Regions from separate parts of the Homo sapiens genome. Here region 1 is linked to region 2. Evidence: fine-mapped expression QTL. A gene starts in region 2. The other region holds a variant in brackets. All regions are shown on one strand. Distances are between the middles of the regions.

Evidence for each region. PIP is the estimated chance that this variant, and not a neighbour inherited with it, causes the effect. A credible set is the group of variants that fine-mapping cannot tell apart.
Region 1: its variant is the best candidate, but not a certain one, in a credible set for the expression of IFT56 in whole blood (INTERVAL, PIP 0.82).

What each region holds. Positions count from the first base shown.
Region 1 is chr7:139,099,694-139,105,076 of GRCh38, reverse strand. All of the region lies in intron 1 of ZC3HAV1 (zinc finger CCCH-type containing, antiviral 1), which reads left to right. Among named protein-coding and RNA genes, the nearest start is that of ZC3HAV1, 7.3 kb to the left of the region's middle. RefSeq lists an enhancer at 2,731-3,302. The variant A/GTGTA (reference allele first, on the strand shown) is at 2,349.
Region 2 is chr7:139,130,677-139,136,059 of GRCh38, reverse strand. IFT56 (intraflagellar transport 56) reads right to left here and starts at 2,282. Exons shown (of 18, transcript NM_024926.4): 1 at 2,200-2,282; 2 at 1,268-1,405. The coding sequence starts at 2,202. RefSeq lists enhancers at 2,266-2,445, 2,163-2,457.

The DNA of each region.
Region 1 (5,383 bases), 31 kb after region 2:
ATGTCCGGCTAACTTTTCTTTTCTTTTTTTTTTTTTTTTTTTTTGAGACAGAGTCTCACTCTGTCACCCAGGCTGGAGTGCAGTGGCGTGATCTCAGCTCGCTGCAACCTCCGCCTCCCCGGTTCAAGCGATTGTCCTGCCTCAGCCTCCCGAGTAGCTGGGATTACAAGCATGTGCCACCACACCCAGCTAATTTTTGTATTTTTTAGTAGAGATGGGATTTTGCCATTTTGCCTGGGCTGCTCTCAAACTCCTAGGCTTAAGCAATCTTCCCAGCCTCCCAAAGTGCAGGATTACAGGCATGAGCCACCGCTCCCGGCCTTGTTTGACTTTTTTTTTTTTTTTTTTTTTTTTTGTGACAGAGTCTCGCTCTGTTGCCAGGCTGGAGTGCAGTGGCGTGATCTCAGCTCGCTGCAACCTCCGCCTCCCCGGTTCAAGCGATTCTCCTGCCTCAGCCTCCCGCGTAGCTGGGACTACAGGCGCCTGCCACCACGCCTGGCTAATTTTTTTTCATTTTTGTATTTTAGTAGAGACGGGATTTCACTATGTTGCCCAGTCTGGTCTCCAACTCCTGAGCTCAGGCAATCCGCCCACCTCAGCCTCCCAAAGTGCTGGGATTACAGGCGTGAGCCACCGCGCCCGGCCTTGACTTCTTAACTAGCTACTTACATTGTCCAGTAACTATATGAAGTTATTAATTCAAAAATTTATTTTGCCTGCATGATTTCTGTTAACTGTTTCAAGCAGGCTGCCTAAGGGTCTTTACCTTGCTTTGCGGTTTTTGCCGATGTGGGTGTTTCCTCTGGGTTCTTTCCTGTTTGTATGTCTTTCCTTTTCGGTTAATTCACATTTTGGGTGGGGGTGGGTAGATGGGAAGAGGACTAGTTGACTGTTTCGCAAGTTGAATAGAATACTGAAAAACGCAAGCATCAGAGAATATTTATTCTGAACCCATAAAAGTTATAACTCACCTCCTGGGATAAATAAGTGTTCACATTTTTCAGTTTTGCTCCTCTTTTAAAATATACTAAACAATCATAACAGACCTAAGGTTATTTTTTTCTCATCCCCAGTCTCATTTCCCTTTCCTAAGAAGCAGCTTCAATCATGATTTTGGTGTGTATCTTGTCCTTCCATGATTTTATAATTTCCTCTTGTATATGTTTGCATCCATATACAAAATGTAGTATTTTATGTGTTTTAGAATTTTTATTCAATGCTGTGTTTTGGAGATCTATTCATATTGCTACACAAGGACCTAGTTTATTCATTTTAACAGTTGAAAAGTATTTCATCATAGGATTTATACCACAGTTCAGTTACCTATTCCCCCCAGTAATGGATATATAGTATATTTCCAGGTTTTTGTTATACCAAATCGTGCTGCCAAGAATTTACGTGCAAGTGTTTCCTGGTGCTCATGGTTAGAGCTTTTCCAGGGTAGATCATTAGGAAGTGGAATTGTTGGTTTGAATTGTTACATAGCTTCAACTTTTCCAGATTCTGACGAATTAGTATAAAGGTGGCTGTGCCAATTTATACTTATATGTCTGAGTGTCCCAGTTTCCTCATTTTCTGGCCAATTAATGCTTGGTGTTATCAGACTTTTTTGGCTTATGCCAGTCGGAAGGCTTTGAAATAGTCATTATTTGAATTCAAAAAAAATTTTTTTCCTGGGCTGGGTGCAGTGGCTCATGGGTGTACTCCCAGTGCTTTGGGAGGCCAAGATGAGAGGATTGAGGACAGGAGTTCAAGACTAGCCTGGACAACATAGTGAGACCCCATCAAAAAATAAAAAAAAAATAAAAAAATAAAAAAATAAAAAACAAGTAAAATAAATAAAAAATAAAAATAATTATATAAAAAATATTAGCTGGGCGTGGTGGTGCATGCCCATAGTCCTAGCAGTGCTGGAGGCTGAGGCAGAAGGATTGTTTGATCCCAGGAATTTTGAGGTTACAGTGAGCTATGTTCATGCCAGTGCACACCAGCCTGGGCAACAGAGTGTGGCTCTGTCTCCAAAAAAATTTTTTTACAACAAATTTTAAAGTTTTTGTATTAAAGTTTTTATTTTATATATATCATATATAAACACACACACACATATACATATACATATACATATACATATACATATATATATACTTTTTTTTTTTTTGAGACAGGATCTTGTTCTGTCACCACTCTGGAGTGTGGTGGTGCAAATATGGCTCACTGCAGCCTCCACCTCCTGGATTCAAACGATCCTCCCATGTCAGCCTCCCAGTAGCTGGGACCAGGCTAGTGCCACCATACCTGGCTAATTTGTGTGTGTGTGTGTGTGTGTGTGTGTGTGTGTGTGTGTGTGT[A/GTGTA]TAGAGACAGTGTCTCACTATTTTGCCCAGGCTGGTCTCGAGTGCCTGGGCTCAAGCATTCCTCTTGCCTCAGCCTCCCAAACTGCTGGGATTACAGGCATGAGCCACTAAGCCCAGCTCAGCATGATTTATTACTGTTAAATATTTAGACATTTGTATCCAAGCCTCCATTTATAACCTTGCTCTGGGCCCCACCAATTTTAGAGAAGGTCTACTCTGATTCCCTGAAATGTCTTCATTGTTTTCTTTTGCATGAATGTACACAATTTATATATTGATCTTCTTATTATTAAAATTGAGACTGGCCTCAGTAGCTAATATCTGTAATCCCAGTACTTCAAGAGGCCGAGGTGGGAGAATCTCTTGAAGTCAGGGGTTCGAGACCAGCCCGGGCAACATAGCTCCTACAAAAACATTAAAAAATAAAATTAGTTGGACACAGTGGCACACACCTGTGGTCCCAGTTACTCAGGAGGCTGAGGCGGGAGGATCACTTGAGCCTGGGAGGACAAGGCTGCGGTCAGGTGCAGTTGCGCCACTGCCCTCCAGCCTGGGCAATAGAATGAGACCCTGCCTCTGAAAAAACAAAGTAAAATTGATATTGTTTTAAGTATTTGCTATTAAACCATTATGCTTTGAACATTTTGGTATATGCTTCTTTGTGTACATGTACATGAGTTTCCCTAGAGATCTAGTAGTGGAATTTTGATTTTTTTTTTTTTTTATTGATCATTCTTGGGTGTTTCTCACAGAGGGGGATTTAGCAGGGTCATAGGACAATAGTGGAGGGAAGGTCAGCAGATAAACAAGTGAACAAATGTCTCTGGTTTTCCTAGGCAGAGGACCCTGCGGCCTTCCGCAGTGTTTGTGTCCCTGGGTACTTGAGATTAGGGAGTGGTGATGACTCTTAACGAGTCTGCTGCCTTCAAGCATCTGTTTAACAAAGCACATCTTGCACCGCCCTTAATCCATTTAACCCTGAGTGGACACAGCACATGTTTCAGAGAGCACAGGGTTGGGGGTAAGGTCATAGATCAACAGCATCCCAAGGCAGAAGAATTTTTCTTAGTACAGAACAAAATGAAGTCTCCCATGTCTACTTTCTACACAGACACAGTAACAATCCGATTTCTCTATCATTTCCCCACCTTTCCCCCTTTTCTATTCCACAAAACCGCCATCGTCATCATGGCCCGTTCTCAATGAGCTGTTGGGTACACCTCCCAGACGGGGTGGTGGCCGGGCTGAGGCGCTCCTCACATCCCAGACGGGGCGGCAGGGCAGAGGCGCTCCCCGCATCTCAGACGATGGGCGGCCTGGCAGAGACGCTCCTCACTTCCTAGACGGGATGGCGGCCGGGAAGAGGCGCTCCTCACTTCCCAGACTGGGCAGCCGAGCAGAGGGGCTGCTCACATCCCAGACGATGGGCGGCCAGGCAGAGACGCTCCTCACTTCCCAGACGGGGTGGCGGCAGGGCAGAGGCTGCGATCTCGGCACTTTGGGAGGCCAAGGCAGGCGGCTGGGAGGTGGAGGTTGTAGCTAGCCGAGATCACACCACTGCACTCCAGCCTGGGCAAGATTGAGCACTGAGTGAGCAAGACCCCGTCTGCCATCCCGGCACCTCGGGAGGCCGAGGCTGGCGGATCACTCGCGGTTAGGAGCTGGAGACCAGCCCGGCCAACACAGCGAAACCCCGTCTCCACCAAAAAAATACGAAAACCAGTCAGGCGTGGCGGCACGCGCCTGCAATCGCAGGCACTCGGCAGGCTGAGGCAGGAGAATCAGGCAGGGAGGTTGCAGTGAGCCGAGATGGCAGCAGTACAGTCCAGCCTCGGCTCCGCATCAGAGGGAGACGGTGGAAAGAGAGGGAGAGGGAGACCGTGGAAAGAGAGGGAGAGGGAGACCGTGGAAAGAGAGGGAGAGGGAGACCGTGGAAAGAGAGGGAGAGGGAGACCGTGGAAAGAGAGGGAGAGTGGAATTTTGATTCTTAAAGTTTTATGTGATAATGCCAAATTGTTTTCCGAAGTGTGTTTGCCAAGTTATACTCCCACCAGAAGAATAAGAGCCTTCCCTTGCCTCACATAGTGGCCAAGTGGTATCGTCAGCTTTTAAAAATTTGTGCCAATACAAGGAATGTGAAATTGTATCACTGTGGTTTTTTTTGTTTGTTTTTGTTTTTGTTTTTGTTTTTTTTTGAGACAGAGCCTCGGTCTGTCGCCCAGGCTGGAGTGCAGTGGTGCAATCTCGGTTCAGTGCAGTCTCCGCCTCCTGGGTTCACGCCATTCTGCCTCAGCCTCCTGAGTAGCTGGGACTAGAGGTGCATGCCACCACCCCTGGCTAATTTTTTTTTTTTGTATTTTGGGTAGAGACAGGGTTTCACCATGTTCGCTAGGGTGGTCTCGATCTCCTGACCTCGTGATCTGCCCACCTTGGCCTCCCAAAGTGCTGGGATTACAGGCGTGAGCCACCGCGCCCAGCCCTCATTGTGGTTTTAATTCTTTATATATTCTGGATCTCTAGCCCTTTTAAGTCTTATTACTCATTTTTTTAAGTTTGTCTTACTTGGCATCTTAGTAGTTGCTTCTTATTCGCATTTTACTTTTTTGGTCATCATAGCACTCTATTTTTGTTTGTAACAGTTTTTGTTTGTTTGTTTTTTACCATTTTAAAAATGGCTAAAACTATTTTTATTTATTTTTTGAGATAAAGTATTTATTTTTTGTTTGTTTTTTACCATTTTAAAAATGGCTAAAACTATTTATTTTATTTATTTACTTTTTTGAGGTTTATTTATTTATTTATTTATTTATTTTTTGTTCTGTCACCCAGGCTAGAGTGCAGTGGTGTGATCTCAGCTCACTGCAACCTCCGCCTCCTGGGTTCAAGCGATTCTCTTGCCTCAGCCTCCCAAGTAGCTGGGATTACAGGCACGCGCCACCATGCCTGGCTAATTTTTGTATTTTTAGTAGAGACAGGGTTTTGCCACATTGGCCAGGCTGCTCTTGAACTCCTGACCTCAGGTGATCTGCCCTCCT
Region 2 (5,383 bases):
CCCAGCTACTCAGGAGGCTGAGGCAGGAGAATTGCTTGAACCAGGGAGGTGCAGGTTGCAGTGAGCTGAGATTGCGCCATTGCACTCTAGCCTGGGTGACAAGAGTGAAACTCCAACTCAAAAAAAGAAAAAAGAAAAAAAAAAGAAAGTGAACTATTTGTGGAAGATGGAGAAATATATGTAAACCTAATTATAACAATTATTAAGGGTAGATTCAGAGTAATATGGACAGAGTAGCATTTTAAGAGAAATGAGTGTGGTACAACACAACCAGACCATGCTGTCAGAACTCTTCATTCTTTGGTGCAACCCTTCACCCTCCTATAACATGTGTTTCCCACAAAGCAGTTTTTTAAAGCACAGTCTCCTGGGACCATCTCCATCAGAAGCACTTAGACTACTCACCTTAAAATGCAGATTCCTGAGCACCTCTGCAGACTTACAGCAGGAGCCCAGGAATCGATATCTTATTAAGTACCCTAGGTAATTCCAATGTATATTAAAAGGTGAGAACTACTGCCATGGAGATTTGAAATATTTTCTGGGGCTATATTTTCAACCGTAAGCATGTTAGAATTATTTAAGTTTGATCAAAATTTTAGAACACATAATAGGAAAAAATCATACATTGGTCAAGGGTTGGGATAAGCAATGTGTGAAATGACATTGTATAAAAGGTCCCTTCATATTTTTAGATTGTAATCACTGTTGGTGAACTAGACATACTCAAAAGTGGCCCTCAAGAAATAAGTTTTGTTTTGTTTTTTTTTTTTTTTTTTTTTGAGACGGAGTCTCGCCTTGTAGCCAGGCTGGAGTGCAGTGGCATGATCTTGGCTCACTGCAACCTCCGCCTCCCGGGTTCAAGCGATTCTCCAGCCTCAGCCTCCCGAGTAGCTGGGACTACAGACACGTGCCACCATGCCCAGCTAATTTTTGTATTTTCAATAGAGACGGGGTTTCACCATGTTGGCCAGGATGGTCTCGATCTCTTGACCTTGTGATCTGCCCGTCTCGGCCTCCCGAAGTGCTGGAATTACAGGCATGAGCCACCGCGCCCGGCCAAGTTTAGTTTTTTAGTTCGTTTTTTATCAGGTTTATAGCTAACTTGGAATCTGGAATCTGTGCCTGACTAGATTTACAGGGGATTTGTACAGGAAGCCCCAGAATGCACCCACCTATTTCAAGAGCATAGCAAACAGCATTCACCCAAGCATTCATCTACAGTCTGGTATTCATACACTAAGAAGCAACGTTCTTTGGGCATTACCTCCAACAGGGTAATAGCTCCAGTGAAATCTCTTTTTGAAAGTAGCTCCTCTAGTTTTGGAATCTTCCTACCTTTCTTCTTTCTTTTGTCAGTGTGCTGTACGCCTCTGCCTACAGCAGGTTTGGCCCTTGAAAGCATCTGTAAAAGAAACAAAGACAGCTGTATGGTCCAATTCTGATTATCAGATTTAAACTGAGAGTGACAGCTCTGTAATTTATAAGTCAAGGCCGGGCACAGTGGCTCATGCCTGTAATCCCAGCACTTTGAGAGGCGAAGGCGGCGGATCACGAGGTCAGGAGTTGGAGACCAGCCTGGTCAATATGGTGACACCGCATCTCTACTAAAAATACAAAAATTAGCCGGGCGTGGTGGCATGCGCCTGTAGTCCCAGCTACTCGGGAGGCTGAGGCAGAAGAAACGCTTGAACCTAGAGGCAGAGGTTGCAGTGAGCCAAGATCGCGCCACTGCACTCCAACCTGGGCGACAAAGCGAGCCTCCATCTCAAAAAAAAAAAAAAAATTATAAGTCAAATCCTTAACAACGAACCCCAGGGAAGCCTATTCAAACTCGTTTTGTAACAGGTATTCTACTAGAAGAGCCATCAGCCAATACTTAGGAAGGACCAAACAGCTACTCCCAACTTTTATCTTCTCTGGCTAGAGATGCTTTCGCATTGCTTCTGTCATCTCAGCTTTCCCTTCCTCTGCTTCCCATCCCACGAGTGGTTTAAATGTGAGTAAACGGAAAAGCAGGAGGGAAGAAAGCACCGAGGTATTTACAGTTGCATCCCTGTCCCCCGTGGGAACACAGGGAGAGCTGGGGATTACTCTCTGCGGACACACCTAGACTTCACACAGAAGTGTGCTGGGAACCTCTAATCGCCAGCCTCAGGACCTACTCAAAGTACTCCCTTACTATTCAGAGCCACTAACCATCTTGACGTCGGTCTTGTGAGTCCCCACCACACAGCGAAGGCCGCGCCTCAGCGTTTCGCCGCATCCACACAGCACGTTCTGTCTCCACGGTAACCCCGCCTGGACGCTGGTACGAACGGGAGAAAAGCTCGTTGGAGAACCAGCGCCCGCGGCTTCTTGGTTCCGTGCAGCTTCTGCCGCGGAAGAGCCGAGGTTCCTCTTGGGAGGAGAGCGTCGTTCTCTGGGCTGAGAGCGAAAGTTTGGTTGTCTCTATTTATGAGTTTACTTTAGGAAAAGGCGAATTGGAATGGCATTGTTTTTCAAATGCAAGTTTTCTGGGAAAGAAATTTTCAGGGACCACTTCTGTTTGGGGCCGTGTTGGACTCCATAGCAACCCTTGACTATGTGCACCGCAGAATCTTGGTCTCTGGCTGGTGCGGGAAGCTTAGAAAATTTCTGCTGAAGGAGTTGTAGTTCTGTGATTTGGAAGCAGGAGTGCACCAAAATACAGTTTCCTATTTCCACAGATACACCTACACACAATAGAGAACTGTAATAAATATTTGTCGATTGGATGACTTAATTTATCTATCTTACTCCTGAACCCAGTTAATACAGGGGCAACCACAGTCTTTAAATTCACGAAATCGTGGAATGTTAGAGTTGGAAGGGACCTTACAGGACCTCTGGTCAACCCCTCAGAATTAACAGACTGAAGAACTAACATCTTGTTAGTTAACTAATGTCAGCCTAAAATAACCAAAAAGCTCAGGGATCCAGTTGAAAGAGTTTATTCAAGTGCAAAGTGTGAGGGCGGCTATCCCGGGAACCACTGACAGCAAAGAATGGTGATCAGTGCTCCCTGATGCAGGGAAAGGTGAGGGTCATTTATATCACCAAAAACAGGAGTGCTGTACGTAATTACAGCATTTTCTAGATGAGGCTAACGTACACAGAAGATTCAATTCACTACTATTGATTACACTGTAAGGGGGTTGTTTAATATTCTATTGTAAAGAGGTAACAATCACAAGGGTCTCTATCTCCAACGTCATTTAGTCTGAATAAAGAATAAAAAATCTGGTTAATATATAACATCAACACAAAGATCAGGAAGCAACAGTCATGCACCAGAGAAGAAAAACAGCCATGTTCTGTGATTTAGTTTACAGGGCTTAACTTTTCCCCTTGGCATAGTACGTTTGGAAAGTGCTGAAATTTTCTTTTCACATTTTCCCCTTTTCTTCAAAAGCTTTCAGAGAAAGCATTATAGAAGAATTATATTCTCAGGCCGTGTATTTGATCAAACCTCATGTCACTAGGAAGGCCCCTTCCTGGCAGTCACATCCCAGGGAGGAGGGGAAATTGGAAAGGACCAAGTCCGAATTATAAAGCAACAAGAGAAAGTAGTTCTGGAACCTGATTCAGGCTACACGGCTGCCTCTTCAATCAAACAATTCTCTGAGTAGTCTTTGTTCTACACATTTTCTCAGCTGTGTGTTGACCCAATTGCAGATAAATACCATAACAGCTCTGCAGACAAAGGCAAGACAAAACACAAACTATGATAATTCCTAAAATACATAACAGCTTTTGCCACCAAGTTCCCCAAGATCCAAATCAATTACTTAACCAGTAGCTTAGAGAGGGTTTTGGATCCGAAAGGTTAATTATTAGAGTTTTTCAAATCAGTTATTAATTTGGTGACGTTATTTGATTCATCTGGGATATAAACACAGCATTCAGTTTCTGTCATAGCACAGATTCCTCCTTGGGCTGCAGTGAGTATGTCTAAGACCATACAGTTTTGTAATACAGTCTTCTCATGACAGTAACTTCATTATTTAATAATGAGACATTCATGTGGCTGTTATTTAGGGCCTTTTGTGTGTAATTGGTTAGGGCCTGTACATGGCAAATGACATCTTCAATACACAGTTGTGGTACAAAGACAGAAGTGAATCTAAGTGGCTTCTGGAAGGTAAGCACTTTCTATTTCTTCTGTTAAAGACACTATTGCGTAAACCTTTACAGTAAGTTCCAGATTCATCCTTTAAATAACATGCGTCTGTAAACCAAACAACATTAGCCTAAGTAAGAAAAGTCTCTTGCAGATCAGTCCTAGGAGAAAACAAGTTTATCAGTTAGAGTTATGCAATTGTGTGGTGTTTCATCTGAAAGTGAAGGAAGAAGAGTTGCAATATTTAGCTTGTTACATCTAGAGATGGTGACATGAGAAGCTAAAAGAAGTGAAACTTTCTATGAAGTTAGTCTACTCATTGAATAACGTTGAGTGTGGTTCAAGTTTAGCAATGCTTCCACAGAATGAGGGATGAAAACAGTAAGGGGAGTTTTAAACAATTTCTTTTCTCTCAGAGTGTAAGGAGAAAAGGAAAGGCCCCTTTAAGTTCCATGGAGCACCCCCATTCTTTATTATCTGACTCCACCTGTTGTTCTTTCCTTTTTAGTTTTTGGCAGTTCGTTTTAATGTGATCAGGCTTTTTGCATTAATTGAAAGTGTATGGTTAAGTCTATTTGCGGATTTATAAGGATATCTTGAAGGTCCAAATTGTGTGGACATTTGTTTCGACTGTAAAATCATAATTTTATTAGCCTTGCTCTTTTGTTTGGCCTCCTTCTCAGATTTGTCTTCAGTTATGAGACAACTGGGCAGCAAGACTGACCAAATTATGATTTTGAGAAGTGGCCCAGCGAGGGTTTTGTCTTTTCATTATTAGTGCTAATTCTTCATCTAACCTATTTATAAAACTGGAGTTGAGAAGAATATCATTTTGATTATTAGCTTAGCTTTCTTCAGATAAACCCGAATATTGTTTAAGTTTACTCACACCTCTCAAAATATGATATTACTGACTCATCTGGATTTTGTTGACCTTGTTGTATTTTACTACAGTCAACTACTCTTAGAAACAGTGAGGAGTGGCTTGAAGCAATGCCTTTGCAGTTTTGTGTGTCTGCCTACAGTCCTGAGCATTTATGAAAGTCTTCTAAGAGATTTCTATAATGGGCCTTGTCTGTCTAATCTTTTTTTTTTTCTTTATACTTTAAGTTCTAGGGTACATGTGCACAACGTGCAGGTTTGTTACATATATATACATGCGCCATGTTGGTGTGCTGCACCCATTAACTCATCATTTACATTAGGTATATCTCCTAATGCTATCCCTCCCCCCTCCCCCCA